Homo sapiens: one gene and its partners. The protein of the gene in region 3 interacts with the protein of the main gene of each other region in a pairwise test. Each region holds a gene or a part of one and is shown on either strand. Other genes may lie near its edges.

Region 1 (5,678 bases), on a different chromosome or scaffold from region 3:
TCTGAGCATCCGTTTCCTCTGGTGTAAATGAGGATCAACTAGACATAGCTGGACTGTGCTCTGCAGAAATGTCAATTCATAAAAGATAAAGAAAGGATGAGGAGCTATTCCAGATTAAAGGGGGCTAAAGAGACATGAGAACTAGATGCAATGCATGACCCCAGGTCAGGGCCAAAAATGCTATAAAGAACATTATGGAGACAGTTGGCAAAATTGGAATATGGTTGGTAGATTAGATAATAGCATTGTTTCTATGTTAAATATCCTGGCTTTGGTAATCATATTATGGGTTATGTAAGAGAATGTGCTTATTTTTAGGAAATATATCCTAATGTATCCAGGGGTAAAGGGCCAATGTTCAGAACAGCAAGAAAATGTTACACACTAGTGTGCACACACGCACACACACACTGATAATGATGAAGCAACTGTGGGAAAATGTTAATTGGTGAATCTGGGTAGAGGGTATAGGGGAGTTTTCTCAACTTTTCTTTAAATGGGAAATATTTCCTAAAAACAATTTTTAAAATGGGATTGCAAGAATATCCCCTGCCACCACATGCCTACGAGGTCTGCTGAGAGGATCAAAAGGGGTGGTGGGTGCAAGCTGCCGGGCCCTGTGCCTGGCATTCTGAGGGGCCCAGGGGCCCACCTGCACGATCTCCAGCATCTCCTCCCGGCTGATGTAGCCGTTGCCGTCCAGGTCATACATGCTGAAGGCCCACATGAGCTTCTGCTCCAGGCGGCCGCGCGAGGTCACGCTCAGCGCAATGATGAACTCCCGAAAGTCTATGGTGCCATCGCTGTTGGTGTCAAAGGTGCGGAAGACGTGCTCGGCAAACTTGGAGGCGTCACCATAGGGAAAGAAGTTGGCGTAGATCTTCTTGAACTCATCCACATTGAGGATTCCTGTGGGGCAGTCCTTGAGGAAGCCCTTGTACCACTCCTGCAGCTCCAGCTCTGAGAACTCTGTGTTCTCTCGCAGGTCCTGCAACATCTCGGGCCGCAGCTTGCTGTTCTGCTTGCCCATGGCCGCCGAGCCAAGTCCCACCTGGGTCCCCAAGGGGGTCAAGGGCAGAGAGGAGTGATCAGGCCCTCCTGGCTACTAGACACTGCTCCAGATGGGCCCCCCTGCCAACAGCCATCCCTGCCTCTTGTTTGGCCCAGTGAAAGAGAGGAACTGGCCCAAGGTCACACAGCCTAGACCCAGGCATCCTGTATCTATGCCATGCTCCACACCATCTCCCTGGACCATACGCTTTCCTGGGAGAGGGAGGAAGGGAAGGGTGGTTCACATTTACTGAGGCCCTTCTAGGTGCCAGCCACTAAGCCTTCACAAATGCACACCAATTCACTTTCGCAACAGGTTGTATGGGGATTTGCCCCATTTTACAGATGAGAAGGCAGGCTTACAGACGTGAGGTGGCTGCTTCAGGTCACACAGCCATGGCATTATGAGGCTGACTCCTAGAGTTGCCCACAGAGGTGCAGAAAAACCTTCTGATCCTCCTCCGTCCTACCCACTGCCTTCTCATTGCCTCACATGTGCCTGCTCAGCACTGAATATACCCGCAGCCCAGACACTGCCCTGTTCTCCCTCTGACAGGTGTGCCCAACAAGAGGCAGCAGAGGGAGGTGTTACTGTGGGCTCCAGAGTCAGATCACCTAGGTTTGAATCCCAGCTCCTCCTCTTACCAGCTATGTGACCTTGGGCAAGTTCCTTAAACTCTCTCTGCCTTATCTTTAAAGTGGGGTAATAACAGTACTTACCTAAGAGGATTGTTTTGGGGATTAAATTAGTTAATATGTGTGAAGCACTTAGAACCATGGCTGCATAGATAAGTGCTACATAAATGTTAAATAAATAAAAATGACTTACATATACCCAGGTGCCACAAAACTCATGCAAAAACTGTGCAAATGAATGTATACCGATAACTGTATGCTTCATAGCTCACCAGATCCACACCCTGGATCCCATGCCACTCACGTACCAGCCCACGCCCACCCATGGGTCAGCATGCCTCCACACATGACGACATTCCCTCTGCTCCACAACTCACACGAATCGACACATGGCACCACGCACAACTCCCATACCCTGTGCATCAAGACACACCAGCCCACGACCCCACATGTCTCACACATGCCATCACACGCCAACTCGCATGCCGACACCTCTCACATGGCCAGCTGCACGTGGGACCTTCAGGCACCCTTGCCATTTTTCTTTGTTTTCCTTCTGTTTTCCCAGGGGTGCTGCCAGGTCCCAGGAGAGGGAGCTGCAAACCTTCCCAGACCTGCTCGGGGCCCCTTTTCCAAGGAGACCCCCCACCAAGCCCATCCAAGCCTCCCCAACACTTACCCTTCATCTAGTCCTGAAAGGTCCCCTGAGTGCAGGTTAGATTGTGGAGGCTGAGTAGAAGGCAATGAAGAGGAAACAGCCAGCCAGTTCTGCACAAGGATGTAGGCGTGTGTGCAGGTGACCCCCACCCACTTAGGGCAAGGAGGGGCCTCCTTGTGCATACATGTGCATGAAGCTCTGCACACATGTGAATGGGTGTGTTGTGAGTGCATGTGCTCATGCATGATGTGTGCCGCTGGTTTTTGCATTGCATTTGCCTGCCGTGTCTTTCCATCTATGTCCCTGCATGTGCCTCAGATGTGCATGTGATCAGGTATGCACCCGTCACAGCGTGAGGGAATGAGCCCGTGTGGCCATTTGGAGGACCCGTGTGTGTCCTCGGCGGTGTGTCACATGCATGTTTCTGTAAGTTGGTGCCCCTCCTTTCTAGACCAGCCTCTTATGGCCCAGGCTAAGGACCCACCGGACAAGTGAGTGGGAAAGGGCTAAGGAAATGAGAAGGGCTGGGGCATGTCCCGCACTGCCCTCCTCAAGGTCCAAGGAACTGGGTCACCGGGGTGGGGGCAGAGAGATGCGCGGAGCAAGAGAGCTCCTCCAGTGCCCCCTGGGCCCTGCCACCCTCGGAGTTGCCCCTCCCGGTTGCAAGAAGATTCAGCTGCCCGCAAAGACCTCCAGTCCCCCATATGGGAAGAACCCCCTCAGCTCGACCTGAGAAGCCAGCCCCGGGGACCCGCTCCAAACCTCCCTCAGCTCTGTCCCCCAGCCCCCGCCTCCATCCGCTCAGCACTAGGACAGCGCCCGGCGCGTGGCCCCTCCTGGAGGGGGCGCTCCAGGGCGGTCGAACGCGGTTCCTAGGGGCCGGCCACTCGGCGGTCAGGACCCTGGAGAGCACCGCGCGCTTCCCAGTCCCCAGCGCCCCCGCCACCCGGGGCAAGGATTCCCGGGAAGCCCGGGAGCGGCGGTGTTGGGAAGCCCTGGACGTGGGCCCCCAGCTCCGGGAACCCCCTGCCCTCATCCCCCGGCCCCGGCTGGAGCTGCCCCCACTCACCCAGCGACGCGGAGACACCGACTGCGCAGGGAAGGCGGCGCTGCTGCGGCGCGCGCGGCAGGGGCGGCAGGAGGGGCGGGCGGGACTGCGAGGGAGACGCCCCGCAGCGCTCACCCGGAGCCCCTCCCCTGGGGGGGTCCCCGCCAGCCCTGGGGGCTGGGGAGCGGCGCGCTGGGCTCCGCCCCCCACCCCCGCCCCGGAGAGAAGGGGACGCCCTCAGTTCCCCGGTCCCCCTCGAGGGAGCACCCTGCCCGGGGAGGAGGATCGCGGCGCCCCTCTCCTCGGCACCTCGGCTCTGGTGGCCGGAATGGAGGGACACGGTAGTGCCAAGAGGTCTCTCTCCTGAGCCGGGGGCGATCCCAGGCCACTCCGCCCCGCTTCCTTCCCCATACCCACCTGGGCTCTGAGCCGCACGTCGCTTCGAGGGCCGAATTGGCACCCTGGGCACCCTCCCTGCTCCTGCGCCTCAACTCCCAACTAACGGAGCTGGGAGCGTGGAGCGCCCATTCCTCCAGCTACTGAGGTCTTCGGGGTAGGGGACCAGACACGCCCCCTTCCCCACCTCCACCTTGGCGAGCCGGCCCCCATGTCAAACCCACCACTCCAGACCTCACCCCGACCCCCCTCTCAGAATTAATCCCACCTCCCAACTTTGGTGTCAGCTGCTCCTCCCACTCCCCCTTCCAATCAAGGAAACCCCCTCCCTTCCTCCCTCCCCAGCCTCTGATTGTGCAGGCCATGACAGGAGGGCAGAACATCTGCCTGGGGATCCTGTGGCACCTACCCACTGCCTGCCGACCGCACAGCTCCTCTCCAGAGTCGATGACCCCTAGCCCAGCTCCTCCTGCCCCCAGCCTCAGCAACATTCTCCGCATGCTGGGCTGAGATTTTGTCCTTTTTCCATTTCTAGGGGTTGGTCCTTATTGTCCCCATGAAGAAATGGGCTCAAAGGGGTTAAGTGATTTTTCCAGTGTGTGCGCCCTCATCCATTCATTCCACAAATACATATAAAACACTAGTTCTGCGGCCAGCATTGTTCTGTCTAGATAGTGGGACTACAGGCGCAGACAATAAACAATGGACACAATATACATGTCGATATTAGACATGTGTTTTTAAACGTTGGGATTTGGGTGTGGCAGTTAGAATGGTAACTGCCATTGGGGCCATCCAGGGCCTTGGGGCCTATGACAATGACTTTAGGCTTTTTATTCCAGATGAGATGGGAAGTCCTGGGGGGCTTTGAGCAGAGTGAGAGGGTGTGACCTCCATGTGGACAGCTTCCTTGGGTTATTATGTCAAGAAGAGACTTTGAGGAGTTGGGGGCAAGGTGGGAGAAGGGGCCATTTCAGGCTGAGAGATGGCCGGGGTGGGTCTGGTTTCTGGATTTACTTCGCAGGTAAAGCCGGCAGCATTTGCCATCTGCCCAGAGGGCCCTTCCCAGCCCAGAGTTTCTTCAGCATCGGCAGCTCAGCCCCTCCTGGCACCCCAGGGCTCCGCCTCCAGGCTCCCAGACTGAGCCTCTCAAGTCCTCAGAGTCTAGCCTTAGTCCCTCCTGCTTGGAGGCAGGTGGGGAGGTCTCGGCTGGAGGAACTGAGGAGCCGGGGTGGGGTGGGGACAGCTGGGCTCTCCGGAACACCGGCTTCACTGTGTGCCTTGGCTCTGATGTTGGGACCCCCAGTGGAGGCGTGAGAGACACCAGATGAGCGTGGGTGGTTCCCAGCTGCCTCCTGCGTGAGGACCTGGGGGCTGGGAGAGACTCGCTGCTCAGCCCCCACCCCAGGGCCCTCCAGTGGCAAGCTCCCTCCCATTTCCCCACCAGGCCTGGGGGGCCAGCTGTGCTGGGGTCGGGGAGACGGTCCCACCCTCCCTCACCTCCTCAGCCCCCTCCCCCATCACCCCTTCCTCTCTCTCCTGAGTGGTCTGGATCCTCCTCTTTATCCTTGGGGGACTCAGTTTATCCCCATCTTGGGCTGCTCAGCTCCCTCTTTGCCTTCTCCCCACTTCCCCAGTTCAGCCTCCTGCAGGCTCACCCCCTCAGGGGCTGACTTCTCCCCACCCCCACCACCAACCACCTTTCTTCTTTGAGGGTGACTCTGGTGCCCTGCCTTCGGACCCCCAGTCTGTGTTCTGTCTCCCCAGTAGATAGGGGTTTTGGAAGGCAAGGCCATGTCTCGCATCCCCATGAGCCCCTCCTGCCTTTGTCTTTCCCTGCACCTAGACTGTGTAGGTGGTTCTGGAGGCAGAGTGTGGGCCCTAGTGGGT
Region 2 (4,891 bases), on a different chromosome or scaffold from region 3:
CTTGCTCTGTTGCCCAGGCTGGAGAGCAGTGGTGTGATTAGAGATCACTGCAGCCTCAAACTCCTGGGTTCAAGCAATCCTCCTGCTTTGGCCTCCCATATGTTGGGATTATAGGCGTGAGCCACCATGCCCAGCCCTTCCCTGTTTTCTTTTTCCTTGGCCACCTTCCCCTGCTCATCTCTCTGCTCTGACAGCTCCTACCATCTTTCCTTCCAACTTCTAGGAATGTGCTGGCTGACTGTGAGCTCTCTTTCTTGGAAATGCCTTTCCAGCTCCTGTCCCAGGCTCACAGGCATCTCAGTGGCTTACTGTGTCACCTGCGCCCTAGGTTGGTTGTCTAGACCCCACACCTCTGTTGTCCTAAGGCTGGGGACCCTCACGGTCCCAGTGCTGCCTCCTTCCACACTCCCAGGCCCTGTGCCACTGGCACGTCTGTCCGCAGGTCCCCTTCCCACAGCCCCACCTAGACCGAAAGGTCTGTGTCTCTGTGAGGAAGTGAATACCGAGTCAGAGCAAATCCTGGGTTACAGCGCCGACCCCTCTGAAGCTCACTTTTGTGATTTTGGTTTCCTCACCATTGTACTTGACAGACCTTAGTTGCCACATCTACTCCGTGGGGGTTATGGCCCATTAGAGCTATGAGGCTGAATGAGGCAGTTCATAGGGAAGGCTGCTTGTGGCCCTGGCTTCTAGAAAGGTGTGATTTGCAGGGGCTGCTAGGAGCCCTCCCTGCCCTCTCTTCCCTTTCTTTTGGTCTAGGGCTGGCTTTTATCTTCAGTTCTCGTTGAGTCTCTTTTCAAATGCAGATGCCTCAGGCTGCCAGCTTCTTTCATTTAGGCATCTGGGCCTTTGACACCTTGCTGTGAGTTAGTTTATTCGATTTATTTTGAAGCCAGGTGGCAAGGGGAAAGGAAATTGAAGAGGGAGATGCAACGCTTCCCCTGGTTTCTGGGGAGAGGCTTCCCCAATTCTCCAGCCCCTGACAGACATTGCGTGAGAGCTCATGGTTAGCGGGCCAGTCCCTGGTGTGGTCCACGCGTATCTCCTGTCCCGGGCTGGAAGCATGATGTGTGCAAATGTCCAAATCACGGGGTCTTCCCTCCCTCACAGGGCTTTAGCCAGGCAGCTGTTACTGAGGTAAATAATGATTTGTGTTTGTAGATAAAAAATAGTGGAATAGTTTCAATTTCATATGGTTCTGCTGCTGGGTGTTATGCAGGGGGAATCTGAGGAGCACTGAGATCACTGGGAAAGAGGCCGGGTGCGTGGCTCACGCCTGTCATCCCAGCACTTCGGGAGGCCGAGGCAGAATGAAGAATCTCATGCCAGGGGCCAGAAAGGAGGCTGAGACCAGAGTGTGAGTAGGAGTCAGCCCCCTCAGAGGTGGGACCAGAGAGGAGGCTCCTTAGGAAGCCATAGTGAGGAGGACATGTGGGACAGGCTCAAGGATTGACAAAAGAACCAGTAAAAAAGAATAGAATCTCAAAAAAAAAAAAAAAAAAAAAAAAAAAAGGCCAGGCGCAGTGGCTCATGCCTGTAATTCTAGCACTTTGGGAGGCCAAGGTGGGTGGATCACTTGAGGTCAGGAGTTCAAGAATAGCCTGGCCGACATGGTGAAACCGTGTCTCTACTGAAAATACAAAAAATTAGCCAGGCGTGGTGGCACACACCTGTAATCCCAGCTACCCGGGAGGCTGAGGCAGGAGAATGGCACGAACCCAGGAGGTAGAGCTTGCAGTGAGCTGAGATTGCGCCACTGCACTGCAGCCCGGGCAACAGAGCAACACTCCATCTCGGGAAAAAAAAAAACAATAGATAAAGAAAAATAAATAAAAAAAGAAAAGAGATGGCTCAGAGATCCCTTGTAGACTTCCCGGGTACCCATGTGGTAACGTTGCACCTGTCAATGGAGTACAGCAGTTCAAGGGGATGTTGACACCAATGTGCTCCATTGACCTTATTCAGATTTCACAGCTTTCCATGTGTCTACCTGTGTGTGTGTGGTTTAGTTCTGCGCATCTGTCACTGTAGGGTTTGTGTGAGCCCATGGCCAAGATGCAGCACAGCCACCATAGGGACCTCTTGAGCTGCCCTCTTGCAGCCACAGCCACCTCCCTTTCCCAGCCTGAACCCCTGAGAGCCACTGGTATGTTCTCCATCTGTATGGTTTCACCATTACGAGAATGCTCCATAAATGGAGTGCTGCAGGGTGTGGGCGTTGAGGTCGGCGTGATGTCCTGAGGTCCATCCAGTTGTGTGCACTACTAGTGTGTTCCTTTGACTGGAGGAAACGTCTATGGTATGGATGGACGGACCATCATGTTTCACCTGTTACAAGACATTTGGTTTTTTCCCCCAGTTTTTTGCTATTATGAATAAAGTTGCCATGAACATTTATGTAGTTTTTTGTGTGACTTAATTTTTTTTATTTTTTGAGACAGAGCCTCACACTGTTGCCAGGTTGGAGTGCAGTGGTGTGATCTCGCGCCACCACACCTGGCTAATTTTTGTATTTGTAGTACAGATGGGGTTTTGCCATGTTAGCCAGGCTGGTCTTGAACTCCTGACCTCATGTGATCCCGCCTGCCCCAGCCTCCGAAAGTGCTGGGATTACAGGCGTGAGCCACCACGCCTGACTTAAATTTTCATTTCTCTGGGATAAAGGCCCGTGAGCGCAGCTGCTGGGTGGTTTGGGAGTTGCATGTTGAGCTGTTTTGGTTTAAGAAACTTCCACACTGCTCTCCAGAGTGGTGGCTGTTTTATTTCACAGGTTTTCATCAGCTCCTGTGAGATTCCTTTGTCCTCACATCCTTGCCGTTTGGATTCGTGGGCAGCGGTATCTCGCTGTGGCTCTAATTTGCATTTTACGAATGGCGGGTGATGTTGAGCATCTTGTCACGGACGCATTTGCCATCTGTGTATCCTCTTCAGTGAGGTGTGTCTTTGCATCCTCTGCCCATTTTCTAATTGGATCGTTTCATTTTTACTGCTGATTTTTTGAGACTCGTGTGTTCTTGACAGCAGTCCTTTGTTCTGTGTGTGGTCTGTGGATATTTACTCACTCAGTAGCTGTCTTTTCATCCTCCTCTCAGGGTTTTTAGCAAGGCAAAAGTTTTTAATCTTGTCAAGGTCCAGTTTTTCCGTTTTCCGTTTTATAGACTGTGCTTTTGCTTTTGGTGTCACCACTCTGTAGAAGTGCTATTATTTTACCTTTACGTTAGATTTGCATTTCACCTGGGGTGGGGGTCAAGATTCTTTTCTTTTCTTCTGTTTTTTTGTTTTTTGATTATTTTCTGTCACCCAGTCTGGAGTGCAGTGGTGTGATCTCGGCTCACTGCAACCTCCACCTCCCAGATTCAAGCGATTCTCCTACCTCAGCCTTCAGAGTAGCTGGGACTACAGGTGTGTGGCACCACAACCGGCTAATTTTTTGTATTTCTAGTAGAGACGGGGTTTCACCCTGTTGGTCTCGAACTCCTGATCTCAAGCAATCCTTCCCCCTCAGCCTCCCGAAGTGCTGGGATTACAGGCGTAAGTCACTGCGCCTGGCCCCAGCACCATTTATTGAAGGCTTTTCCACTCCCAGCAGTGTCATAAATTGCATGTCTACACATGTGTAGGTTTATTTCTGTTTTGTTTTGGGGACAAAACAAAACAGTCAGAGACAGAGTCTTTCTCTGTCCCCCAGGCTGGAGTGCAGTGTTGATTTCGGCTCACTGCAACCTCTGCCTCCCAGGCTCAAGTGATCTTCCCACCTCAGCCTCCCAAGTAGCTGGAACTGCAGGGGTGCACCACCATGCCTGGCTAATTTTTTAAATTTTGTAGAGATGAGAGTCTCCCTGTTTTGCCTAGGCTGGCCTTGAATCCCTGGGCTCAAGTGATCCTCCTGCCTCGGCCTCCCAAATTGCTGGGATTGCAGGTGTGAGCTGCCTCATCTGGCAATTTTCTGGACTCAACCGTATTCCATTGGTTTATTTCTCTATGCCTAAGCCAGTAACTTAGGTCTTACTTACCAAACTGTATATAATAAGTCTTGACATCTAATAGTGTAAGTACTTCAAATTTGTTCTCTTTCAGGCTTATCCCTAGTGTTCTTGGCCTTTTGTGTTTCCATATAAGTGGAGCATTAGCTTGTGAGTCTCACACTGTTGGGGTTTTGATTGGGACTACGTCAAATCTTGGATGAATTTGGGGAGAAATGACATCTTTTCAGTTCTGGGTTTTGCAACATATAACGAGATGTCTCCTCCTATATCTTCCCATAAAGATATGGTTGTGGTTTACTCTGTACATCTTTTGTTAGGCTTATTCCGAGGCATTGAGGCTTTTGGGTGCTATTCTGTTGTTCAGTTCTAAGTAGGAGTGGACATCCTCCCCTGACAGCCTCTGTCTTTCCAGGGAATTTGCTTTGGGAGGGCAGGAGAGAAAAGGCAAGGGAAGCTCTTTCCAGGGGATATGCTTTGGGAGGGCAGGAGAGAAAAGGCAAGGGAAGCTCTTTCCAGGGGATATGCTTTGGGAGGGCAGGAGAGAAAAGGCAAGGGAAGCTCTTTCCAGGGAATTTGCTTTGTCTGGGAGGGCAGGAGAGAAAAGGCAAGGGAAGCAGATTTCTGCAAGCGTCAGAGCCCTTGAGGGAGTGGCTCTGCTATGTTCAGAGTCACTGGGGCTGTGGGAGCAGGAGGGCATGGGGCAAGGTGAGGGCATGGCAGCGAGGGAGGCACTGGAGTGTTGGAGTCAGGGCTTGTAGTAGCGAGCCAGGCAGAGAGGAGGCGATGGGCAGAGAGTGGGATGTTGAATGGAGGTGACAGGCATGGGCTGCAGTTACTGGTGGTGATGGAGCACAGCTGGCCAGAAGATAAGGACACTGGTGTAGAGAAGAGGTCAAGGCTCAGAG
Region 3 (5,504 bases):
TACCCACTCATAGTCAGAATATGTTATCTATTACTTGCCAAAAATAGTAGAAACTTCTCAGAATCTAAAAGAGGAGCTCTTTTTCTTTGCAAACCTAAAATAGAACTGTATGTTTGAGAACATACAGTAAGAATTGAATTGAGTTTATGGGGATTTCTAATGTAGACTTGAATACGGAGACCCAATCCATGTAGGATTGATGATTCAGTTCAACCTCTCATCTAGAGCCACATATTCTAGAACTTGAACCATTCTATCCTCCACCTTCCCCAGTCTCTCTCCGAACTCTCAACTTAAAGCCTAGACCCGATACTTTAACAAGAATGATAGAATCCAGAGTCAAGGCCTACCTTGTCTCAGAACTGGGTGGTTATATTAGAGTCATGAACACAGCAACCTCTCCCCGCCAACATCAATCTAAGCTCGAATGTTTTCCTTATCTGCACACCTCACCATCCCACTGCACACATCCCAGGCACTGACGTGCCATCTCATTTATTCCTTCTTTGCACTCTCTGTCAACAGCCTTGTTCACTTCCTAAGATTCCTGACACTCTTTCTTTTCCTAATCTTAGTGTGACCACATGTCCTGGTTTTCCCAGTATGGTCCCAGCTGGTTTACACCTTTAGTCCTGGAGTGAGTCCTAGATAGTCCTTTTTACTATAAGACATGTCCTGGGTTGGTTGGTAAATTACATAATCTATTTATGCTACTCTTTGGTTTTCCTTATGTCCTCCCACCTAGCTCCCCTACATAGTCTTCTCTAACCTCTTTGAGGCCTCGGCAGAATCTTTCAAACACTCTCTTCATGTTACCACCCTTCTCCATGGAGATCACCCGTGTATGATCCTCCTCATTCACCCAGATCAGGAAGCTCTTCTCATTGTTGTGCCTGAGGGCCGGAGAGGGACAGTGATCAAGAGGCAAGGCAAGAATTGGGAGAGATAGAGGGAAAAAAAGCATTTATGAGGGCATGAAGACAAAAGAGGTAATGAGCAGCTTCATACCAAATTCCACGAGCATCTGGCCAGTCTCGAGCCATTCCTGCTGCAGTCAGCAACGGGGACACAGGCTTATCAAACAGAAAGTGGTCCTGGGAAGAGTAACGGGACTTGGGTTAAGAATCTTCATGGTGGCCCCTGGGCCTTTCAGAGCCCATGTCTCATCTGGCCCAGCCTTCCCCATCTGCTCCCACCAACCAGCACCCTCTTAAGGCCCTCACATCAATAAGCTGCTGCTGTTCAGCCTCTGTCATCTCACTGAGCCTATAGTAACGTCCAGCCAGGTCACCCTTCAGGCCACTCAGTGCATCCACCACAACACGTTCCACCTCTCGTCGCTCTGCTCGAGTGCAAGCTGGAGGCAGACTGAGTCCTCGGATGCTTCGGCCAGTTCTGACTCTAGAGGACAATACATACCTCTCATCAAAGTAGCCAGAACGGATCTGGGAGATAAGGGAAATGAATGTAAGTCACAGAAACACGGTGGGAACTGAGGGCCCCTGGGAAAGGAGAGACCTTCCTTAGGCATTAGAGGACTCTTTGTGCATTCTTCCTGCATGCATTGGAAGAAGAGGCCCTTTGGGAAAGCACTGGAATTGAAGGGGGCATTGCAGACCTTTCCCCAAACCACCCACCTTGGGTCATGGTCATTCTTATCTATCCTTCCATCTCCATATATGCTGCCCCTTAAGATATGATTCTTTCCTTACATTAAGATTAAAAGCTCAGCTGTATAATGACCATGAGTCAGGAAATAAGGTGAAGGGGTTGGAGATACAGAGTGTTGTACACAGGCAATGCAAATCAGAAGTGGGATATTTGAACTCACTTTACTGGCATCTAGATCCGTGGTGTGCTTCATTGTCCGGGGGTCATATCCATTGTGTCGCTCTTGGATCACAGGGTCAAACAGGTCAGCAAATACCTAAGGGGAGTTAAGAGGGAGAGATGGTTAAGGAGAGGGAATCCCTCCCCAGACTTCAATTGTGCATTGATTTCACTGGTTCAGAAAACTTAAGTATGGGGGGCTCAGAGTCTTGGGGGAAAGTGAGAGGTCTTTAGGGGAAAGGAGCTGGGATTACTGGGAAGATGAATTGGATCATCAGGGAGACTCTGGGGACCCCCTACCTCATAGGTCTCCTCATCTCCAGCCACCATGCCCACAGTCTTGATGAAGGGGTGGCCAGGGTTGTCCACGCCAGTCTGGATACACTGATCTAGCGTCCAACCAGTGGGTGTGGTCTTGTCGCAGAGCCGTGCATAGACTGCTGGGGTCAGGTGACTGGCCATGCAGTTGTTGTGCTTTCGGAGGTCTGGGTACTCAGCGCTGGGGAGGGGGTACCCAGTAACCATGGAGGGAGGGCACAGACGCCTAGACCTAGTGCAGTTACCTGGGAGCTGTCCAGTTGGCCATGTCTGGCTTTGCTCCGCGGGAGGAGGGGGAATTAGAAAGAGGGTAAACCTTGGTAATCTCTTTAGGGACTTTCAGAGTCTATGCTTTCCTAATAGTTCTAGTTGCCTCTGGCTGGCCAGCTCAGTTTCTTCAGATCTGCTCAGTTCTTTCCTCCCATGACACAACACTACGGATGGAGGAGGGGAAAAGCCTAAGGAGAGGAATTGAGGAAATGAGGGAAGGAGATGGAGGGGAGCGAAAAGGATAGTTCCTGGCTTTACAATTAGGGATTTGGGCAGCCAGTGCAGCTAGAACTCGTAGGGCCAGAGCTGGTCTTGGCAGGTCCCCAGGAATGTTCTTGCTTTATGGTTTTGGCCCCCACCCCCACCCCACTGAGGTCTGCAGACTGCACAGCCCTCCAGCTCCAGGGCCTTCGTGATTATAGCCCTTCTCTGTTGCCCGGATTCTCACTTCTACCCGCACCTTCGTTCCCATCACCTCCTGCCCCCGCCTCCTCCCGCGCCTCAGGCACTGTTACCTCGGGGGATACAGCCTCCGTCGTTCACTGGCAGCTCGTACAGGTTCCGGTCGGAGCAGAAACCCAGCGGCTAGAGACCCCGCTCCGGCCAAAGCCAGGAGCCTGAGTCCCGGGCGGGCGGACAGCAGACGGGAGAAGGGACCAGCCATGGCTTGAGGTCTGGCTACGGGATCCTGGAGTAGGCGCTGGCGCAAGATAAGATCCGGAACAGGGAGGGAGGATGCAACCGGATAGACCGAGGGCCGGAGCTAGGTCCGAGGCTGCAGCCGAAATGGGGGTCGGATTGGAGGCTGGAGCCGGAATGGGAGCCGGTGCCAATCAGACTGCAGGAGAGGCGCAATGAGCTAGTGGCAGGCGGGCGGGCGGAGGAGAGGGAGGCCCCAGCCGCAGTCTCCAGGGGTGGGGCTCCCCCAGGCCCCGCCTTCCCGCCTGCCACCGCGCTAGGTGCGCGAGGGCAGGGGTGGGCAGCACCCGCCAGGTAATTAGCGGGACCTGAGACTCGCGCGTCTAAAGCCGGGGATGTAGCCCCCTCCCGCCCCGGGGATGTGGCCGCCCAGATTTCAGCACCAAGTGGAGGACAGCACCCACGTGGACTAGCTGAACCCAACACCCTTCCCCCACACCCCTCGGTTTAAGCTGAAACTCGATCCGTCTACCCTGTGGGTGTGCAAGGGTGACACTGCCCAACCTTTCCTCTGCTTTCGGCCTGCCCCAGCCACCTCTTCGGTCTCCCGGGGGCAGCCGCGGGGAAACCGCGGAATAAACACAGATACCAGAGGAGGATATGGAGAAAGCACAGGGTTAGAGGCAGGCACTGGGAAAGACACCCACTGGCTCAAGGTCACCTTTTCCTTAGAACCAGGAAGAGGAGCAAGGTGCTTCCTTGCCACCTCTGTGCACGCCTTACAAAGTTGAGAAAGGACTCCCTGGGAGGAACCAAGGAAATATTAATTCTTATGCCATCTGTGCTGTGTCCTCCACCTCCATTCTGCACCCAAGTCTGAAGCCCTGTTATTTCCTGCCTCTGCTTCTCATGATCCCCCACTTTTTGTTTTCCTTTTGTCTCTCCCACTTTCCTCCACGTCCCCTACCTCACCTTTGATCTTTTACTTCTCTGCGTCTTTTCCAGGCTCAGATGTGTTTGCTGCTCACAGGATGCCCTCTGCGTTTTCTCGGCAAGCTTGCCCACCTGTTGGTGGTGCTGGGTGTGGGGGTGGGCAGGGAATCGTTAGTTTCCTCCTCCTCCTCTCCCTTGGCTTCTCTCTCCGTAGTTCCTAGTTCCTGTGCTGGAGGAGAAGGTAAAGTGAGGTGAAGGGTGTGGTGAGATGACTGGGTGTGGGACTGGAACAGGCAGGCACAGGTCTCCAGACACCACATGTGTTTCCTCTCTTGTCTCCCTAATGCTGTTTAATCCAGAGAGTAAAGGCGAGTGGTGTACAAAGGCATGAGGTCGTCAGGGAATCTCTGCCTTCCTCGTGGTCCCCTCTGCTGCTCTCTCTCTCCTCGTGAAACACATATTCAGATTTGAGAGGGCTTTGTTTCCCAGCTCCAGGTATGATTTGACCTTTGTCCTGGTAGCAAGGAGAATGAATGCTAGAGTTGAAATAGAGATGAGGGGCTTCAGCGTGGAGGGTCAGTTAAGGTGGAGTAGCACCGTGGCATTAGTCCCTTCCCTCTGCTATCCTGGTGTACCCACAAGACAGATACTTGGAAATCTTAACAGAGAGTATTTGGGAAAGAGAATTCCCTTTACATAGAAAATTCCCCCATATTACTCTCATTCCCTTCATTCTCCTTAGGCCTTCCTTGTGTCCTTTTATTCTACCTTTGTCATTTGTGGGTATTCTTAGAAGTGTCCACTTCTCTCTTGGGTCCATCCCTTCTTCTTCTGGTAAGACATCAATTATTAGAGAACAGAGTTATGCAGCTGTAGTGTGGAAAATGTTACCTGTGTTGTGGGGCCTCTTTACCTAGGTTGAAAAGTAGCCATGAGTAAATAAATATAATTTCTTAGAATAGCGTGTATTTATCCAGATAAATAGGGAGATAATCTTCCAGAGCAGTAGGGTTGCTATTTGATTGAGAGGGTGTTACTAAGGAATAGGAAGTGGGAAGAGATAATTACCGAAGGAGAAATAAGACAGCCAGAGGAGTAGAGAAATTACCCAAGTTTAGAGAGTAGCTTCCCAAATGTGAACAATAATTCCACTGAGAAAACACATGTACTTATGCACTTTTCTTATCCCTTGTGTGCCTTTTACAAGCACATAATATATTAATGCTCATTTAAAAAATTATTTTGCAGCATATGGAAGTAATCAATATATGGTATTGTTATATGGTATTTCATTTATTTAATAAGAATTATTGTTGTCAATAGTATTTAATATTTTTAAAGCACTTTACAATTACAAGGAACTTTTATATGTATTATTTCATTGAGTTGAATTGGATTGTTCCAATGATTACTGGGGACAGAGTCTACATTTTCATGGGGATAGTAAGGGGAGTTAAATACCTGGAAGATGCTGTAATAGCTAGTTTGAAGGGCTAGAGTGGTGGAGGGGGTAT
Region 4 (4,891 bases), on a different chromosome or scaffold from region 3:
TTGAGCTAAGCTGAAAATCTGCCTGGGTTAAAGAGGAGAACTTGTTCACATCTCACTTTGGGTAAAAAGTCATTTTTATCAAAGAGATGGAGGTTATTTGGTAATTGTATAATTTCAAGTTATTTCTGTTCTTTTGGTGTCCAATACTGCATGTTCTAAACTCCAACATGTGGAAAGATGATGTTGGGTCCGGTGGACATTAGATTTTCTAAATGAGATGCTTATGATTCTTGTGAATGTGGCTTTAGGAGCTAAGATACACAACTGCTAGTTTGGTGATTTCAAAAAAATTTTCTATACAGCTGGTAGTTTGGTGATTAAAAGAAAATTCCTCTCCCCACTAAATTATAAATTTATACTTCTATCTGGAAGAAGGATATACCACAGATGTCACTCGTGCAACATCTACACTTAGAGCAGAAAATGATGGCAGCATTTCAATAAAAGAAAATCTCTATTTGCCTCAATCATCTAGATAATTCTGAAAAACAGAGTCATCTGAATTCCCTAATTCCCTTCTTCACTGCCTTTTCTTCTGGGCAGTGCATTCTGTTCAGAATAGTTATTGTAGGCCAGTCTATGGTGCAAAACAGGGAGGAGTTTATTGCCTTCACCTCCTAGGAAGTTTTACACTGAGCTCAGGCAATCCAGCTACTTGGAAGATTGAAATAATTCATTACAAGAAATTTAACATTTCCTGCATAATTAATAATGACCTATTAAATAGATCCTTCTTTTCCCATACCATTATGCTTAAGATTCCACACATATCGTACTGTCAATCTTTATGCTTTTCTATGTTTCATGCATCCTTTTACCCAAACTGGTTCTCCTAATATCAACTGGTATTGTATGTGTAAATTTTTTTCTCATCAATCTAAGGTTACATCGTTGCTGAGACGCCTCTCATCAATGGCAATGTTTTAGAAGTAAAAAGGTACAATATAATACTATTATGATAATGTAGAATAGAAAATGTTTTTTAAAGTCTGTGAATCAGAACTCTATGAATGAGAAAAAATGAAAACAAAACTTATGGCCTCCAAAGAGTTTCTGTTAAGGACATTTTTGAAAGACAGAGAGAGGCAGGTCATCAGGGGAGAGAAAAAGAGAGAGAGAATGACAGAGAGAGGTACACTAGACTCTAAGACTATTATGAAGTCCATTATGAACTCAACTAGGAATGAACACAGTGACTGGAGTTGTAAAATGACCCCAGTGACTTTTATTTAAAAGAACGTTATTAAAATCACTCCAGCTTCATTGCCATTAACTGCTTCATAGTTCAATGGTACAGTTCATGCAGTTATATTTTACTCAACGTCAAAAGATTTTTCAAACTGCCATTTTCCTTTTAATTACAATTGCAAGCTGATAAAAATGTATTTTTATGTTTGTAAAAATAGGGTCATACAGAACTTACACTTCTGTTATTATTAATATAACTCACTTTGGGATATAGTTTGTTGTCTCATTTTCCCAATGGGTGATAACTCTTCTTTCACATATGTATTCGGATAGGCCTAACACTCAAAAGTACAGAACTCTCTAACACATTGGAAACCCAAAAGGTGAGTATGTGGCATCAGAACTCATTGTAACCTTTATAATGTTAAGAAAGCATTTTATTAATAAACAAGGTTGACCTTCAAAATCCAGCAAGTAGCCTAACTATTCAAATTTGATTAGTTTATAATGGATATTAGCCTAATAAGTTGACAATGAGTACAGCTATCTAGAGATTAAAAGGTGGTTTTTTTGCTATGGCAGGAATCATACATTTCTGCCTGGTTAGGTGCCAGGTTAGATCAGATAAAGAAAGCATGGAGATTAAATGGGAAAATATTTTATAAAAGTCTTTTGTTTCTATTAAAAAACCAAGTTAGGAGCTCATGTTAGTGTTTTAATTCAAGATAAGGATGATAAGTGTACATGAAGTATTACAGATAAACAGGACTCTCTGGCCTCTCCTGTGTTTATTTGGTAACGAATAGTAGATAATCTCTATGATGGGAAACGCTGAATGACACGTGATAATTTCATTCATTCAACAAGCAAATATTCCTTAACTATTAGGTGCTGACCATACAGAAATGACAGTGATATGATCCCAAATATATATTGCTTTTGTTGATTTAGCGCCCAATATTTTATGTTATTTGTGAGTTAAACACCAAAACTTAGTGAAATTACAGAACTTCTTAAGTGTAAAATAAAGCAGTGTGGTTAGGCAGGATTTTGTCATATAGGCACTATATGTAGAATAGTGGTTTCAGTAGATTTGTCTTCCTCTAAATTCACTCATGACTTGCAATGGATGGATTTTTTTCTTTGCTGAGCCTCGTCTGACAGCTGCACACGTTTCCTCTGGCTTCTCTCTTTTAATCAAGGGTTTTTTTGCAGGAGCCTTCATTCTCCACATCACAACTGGGTGCCGGGGCCCAGCAGGACTCTGGATTCGGATGATCTTGGTTGAGGCAATGTAAGACATTTTCACTGTTTGCACTACAGCATTCATTAAATTTTTGGCTGCTTGGATCAGGGATGTGACACTGTCCAACTGTAGGGAAAAAAGAGAAAAAAGAGCTATTATTCCAGGAGGTTTTGTTAATTATTGCCAAGCGTGGGCATGGTGGCATGTGCCCGTTGCCCCAGCTACTCAGGAGGCTGAGGAGGGAGGATCACTTGAGCCCAGGAGGCAAAGGTTGCAGTGAGCCAAGATGGCGTCACTGCACCGCAGCCTGGGTGACAGTGAAACCCCATATAAAAAAATAAATAAATAATAAAAATAAAAATAACTGAGCCTGATAGTCTATTAATGTCACAATAAGCTGCTCAATATTGTCTATGCCCAAACATAAATCAATAAGTTCTGCCTCATTTTTTTGTATCTAGATGGATAAGTGATTATGTTCAATTAACTCTTATGCTAATTATGTAATGTGTTTTGCAAATAACCCTAATACGCCAATTTAAATAGAATCCTGTTAAATATTATCCTGTATAAATCTTACTTTTATTATAGTGTCTCTTCTGTGCTTTGTGGTATTATATGGTTTCAGTTTAACAACGGTACAAATTGGACCAATTCTACAAATGTTTACGGATAAAGGACTTGCTCTTAAAAACATATCAATAGCCATTTACTACAAAAAGGTGGAGTTTAGCAACAATAAAATACATTTTCTGTTTCCTCATAAAATGTTAACATTTCGTCCATGTAAGTAGTTTGTATAGAATACCTGGATCTTTTCTCAAAAACACTAAATACCTATAAATCCTTGACAACTATGTCAATTTGGAATGTCTGCTAGCAAACCCTTGCCAAAACCCTATTGTAATTAGTGATAGCTAAGAGGAATATTCAAAAAGACATGGTACATATTCCTTCTCTTGCTTTTGGAAGTTTCTCACAGAGATTGTGTCAAAACACTAGAATGCTTTCTACTCGTAGGACACTAGTCTAACTCCCTATAGTTTGGATTCAAGACTGTTACCAGACATACGCCTTACATGAGGATTCTAAGCCTACGTGAACCTCACTTCCACTGGTGTGGATCTCACTTTCTTGCACCTGGTCTGTCACCTGGGAAAGCAGCTTCCCAATCACAGGGCAGTGTGAACTGCCATGCCAACTGCTTCTTCTGAGACTCCTGCTGAGAGAAAAACCTGATGCTGCTTGGAAAGATATATGGTCTGTCCAGTAACCTTTTTGGTAAATTGGTACCAAATGTAGCCTATGATCTTGAGTCTCAAGGTGTACCTGAATTCAAAGACCCCTGTTGGATGTTGGTCCTGCACAAAAGCAATTTTTGAAAGACAAATGTCAAGAGTTTGGTTCCAAGTGTCAGAAGAGCTTAAAATAATTGCTAATATCTATTATATGCTGTAGTATGCAGTTGACATAAAGTAACTCATAGCAACCCTATGAGGTAAGTACTCTTATTATCTTCATTTTATGGATGAAGAAACAAAGGAACTGGAAGGTCTGGTGACTTGCTCAAAGTAACACAGATATTAGATAGTAGGGCTGGAACTGGAACCAAGTAAGTCTGGTTCTACCTTGCGTTTTTTCTCATTACATAAACCTGCCTCCAAGAATATCCTACTTCCAATATGTGATTATTTTTCGATATCAAATAGTTAAATAAATTATACTAACCTTAACAGAGTGTCTAAAATTTTAAAGTTGACTAGCCAGCAACTCTGCTTTTAAGAAGCTTGCTCTTATTTTTGTAATGCATGTTGCTACCAGGAGCAATAGAGTATCTTATTTGCCAATGCATTTTGTTAGGATTGTGGTTTGAAAATTTATATACTAATTTCCAAGTTGTGTTTCTTTGGAAGAGCAAATAGAAGTACTCAGTCACCCTTATAGGCCCCAAACCATTTAAAGACATTTAGATTAAGACTATTTCATAACAAAACATTTTTAAATTTTAAAACCTGGGTCTCAATACACATATCAATAAGGCAAAGAAGAACCATAAACAAATCACATTATAGGTTCTAGGACATGGAAGTACATAACATTTATCTTTAAATCTTTTAAATGTGTCAGTATAAATACAATCCTGATTAACCAAACTTTTTTTTCTTATTCTCCAATAAAATTAAGTCAATTTGTTTGCTTGGTTTTGCAAAAATAACAGGATTTGATCCTAGGACTCCAGAGTTTCTTCTCAATGTAGTTATTTTTAAAGTTGTATTCGTTCATTTACACACTACTACAAAGATACTACCCGAGACTGGGTTATTTATAAAGGAAAGAGGTTTAATTGACTCACAGTTCTGCATGTCTGGCAGGGAGGCCTCAGGAAACTTACAATCATGGCAGAAGGGGAAGCAGACACATCTTACATGGCAACAGGAGAGAGACAGCAAACAAAAG

The links.
Region 1: the proteins of CKMT1B (region 3) and HPCA interact in binary tests that used the Homo sapiens proteins (3 or more experiments, as listed by UniProt).
Region 2: the proteins of CKMT1B (region 3) and PPP1R16A interact in binary tests that used the Homo sapiens proteins (3 or more experiments, as listed by UniProt).
Region 4: the proteins of CKMT1B (region 3) and CTNNA3 interact in binary tests that used the Homo sapiens proteins (3 or more experiments, as listed by UniProt).

What each region holds. Positions count from the first base shown.
Region 1 is NC_000001.11:32,884,251-32,889,928, reverse strand, and holds the start of HPCA (neuron-specific calcium-binding protein hippocalcin), read right to left. Parts: upstream 3,439-5,678; 5' UTR 3,414-3,438; intron 2,432-3,413; exon of another isoform or gene 2,366-2,431; intron 1,052-2,365; 5' UTR 1,031-1,051; coding exon 653-1,030; intron 1-652. UniProt on the Homo sapiens protein: Calcium-binding protein that may play a role in the regulation of voltage-dependent calcium channels. May also play a role in cyclic-nucleotide-mediated signaling through the regulation of adenylate and guanylate cyclases.
Region 2 is NC_000008.11:144,483,729-144,488,619, forward strand, and holds part of PPP1R16A (protein phosphatase 1 regulatory subunit 16A), read left to right. Parts: intron 1-4,891. UniProt on the Homo sapiens protein: Inhibits protein phosphatase 1 activity toward phosphorylase, myosin light chain and myosin substrates.
Region 3 is NC_000015.10:43,591,797-43,597,300, reverse strand, and holds the start of CKMT1B (creatine kinase U-type, mitochondrial precursor), read right to left. Parts: upstream 3,275-5,504; 5' UTR 3,083-3,274; coding exon 2,934-3,082; intron 2,607-2,933; exon of another isoform or gene 2,423-2,606; coding exon of another isoform or gene 2,330-2,422; coding exon 2,131-2,329; intron 1,928-2,130; coding exon 1,832-1,927; intron 1,446-1,831; coding exon 1,224-1,445; exon of another isoform or gene 1,223-1,223; intron 1,095-1,222; coding exon 1,009-1,094; intron 894-1,008; coding exon 770-893; intron 1-769. UniProt on the Homo sapiens protein: Reversibly catalyzes the transfer of phosphate between ATP and various phosphogens (e.g. creatine phosphate).
Region 4 is NC_000010.11:65,918,058-65,922,948, forward strand, and holds part of CTNNA3 (catenin alpha-3), read right to left. Parts: intron 2,561-4,891; coding exon 2,273-2,560; 3' UTR 1-2,272. UniProt on the Homo sapiens protein: May be involved in formation of stretch-resistant cell-cell adhesion complexes.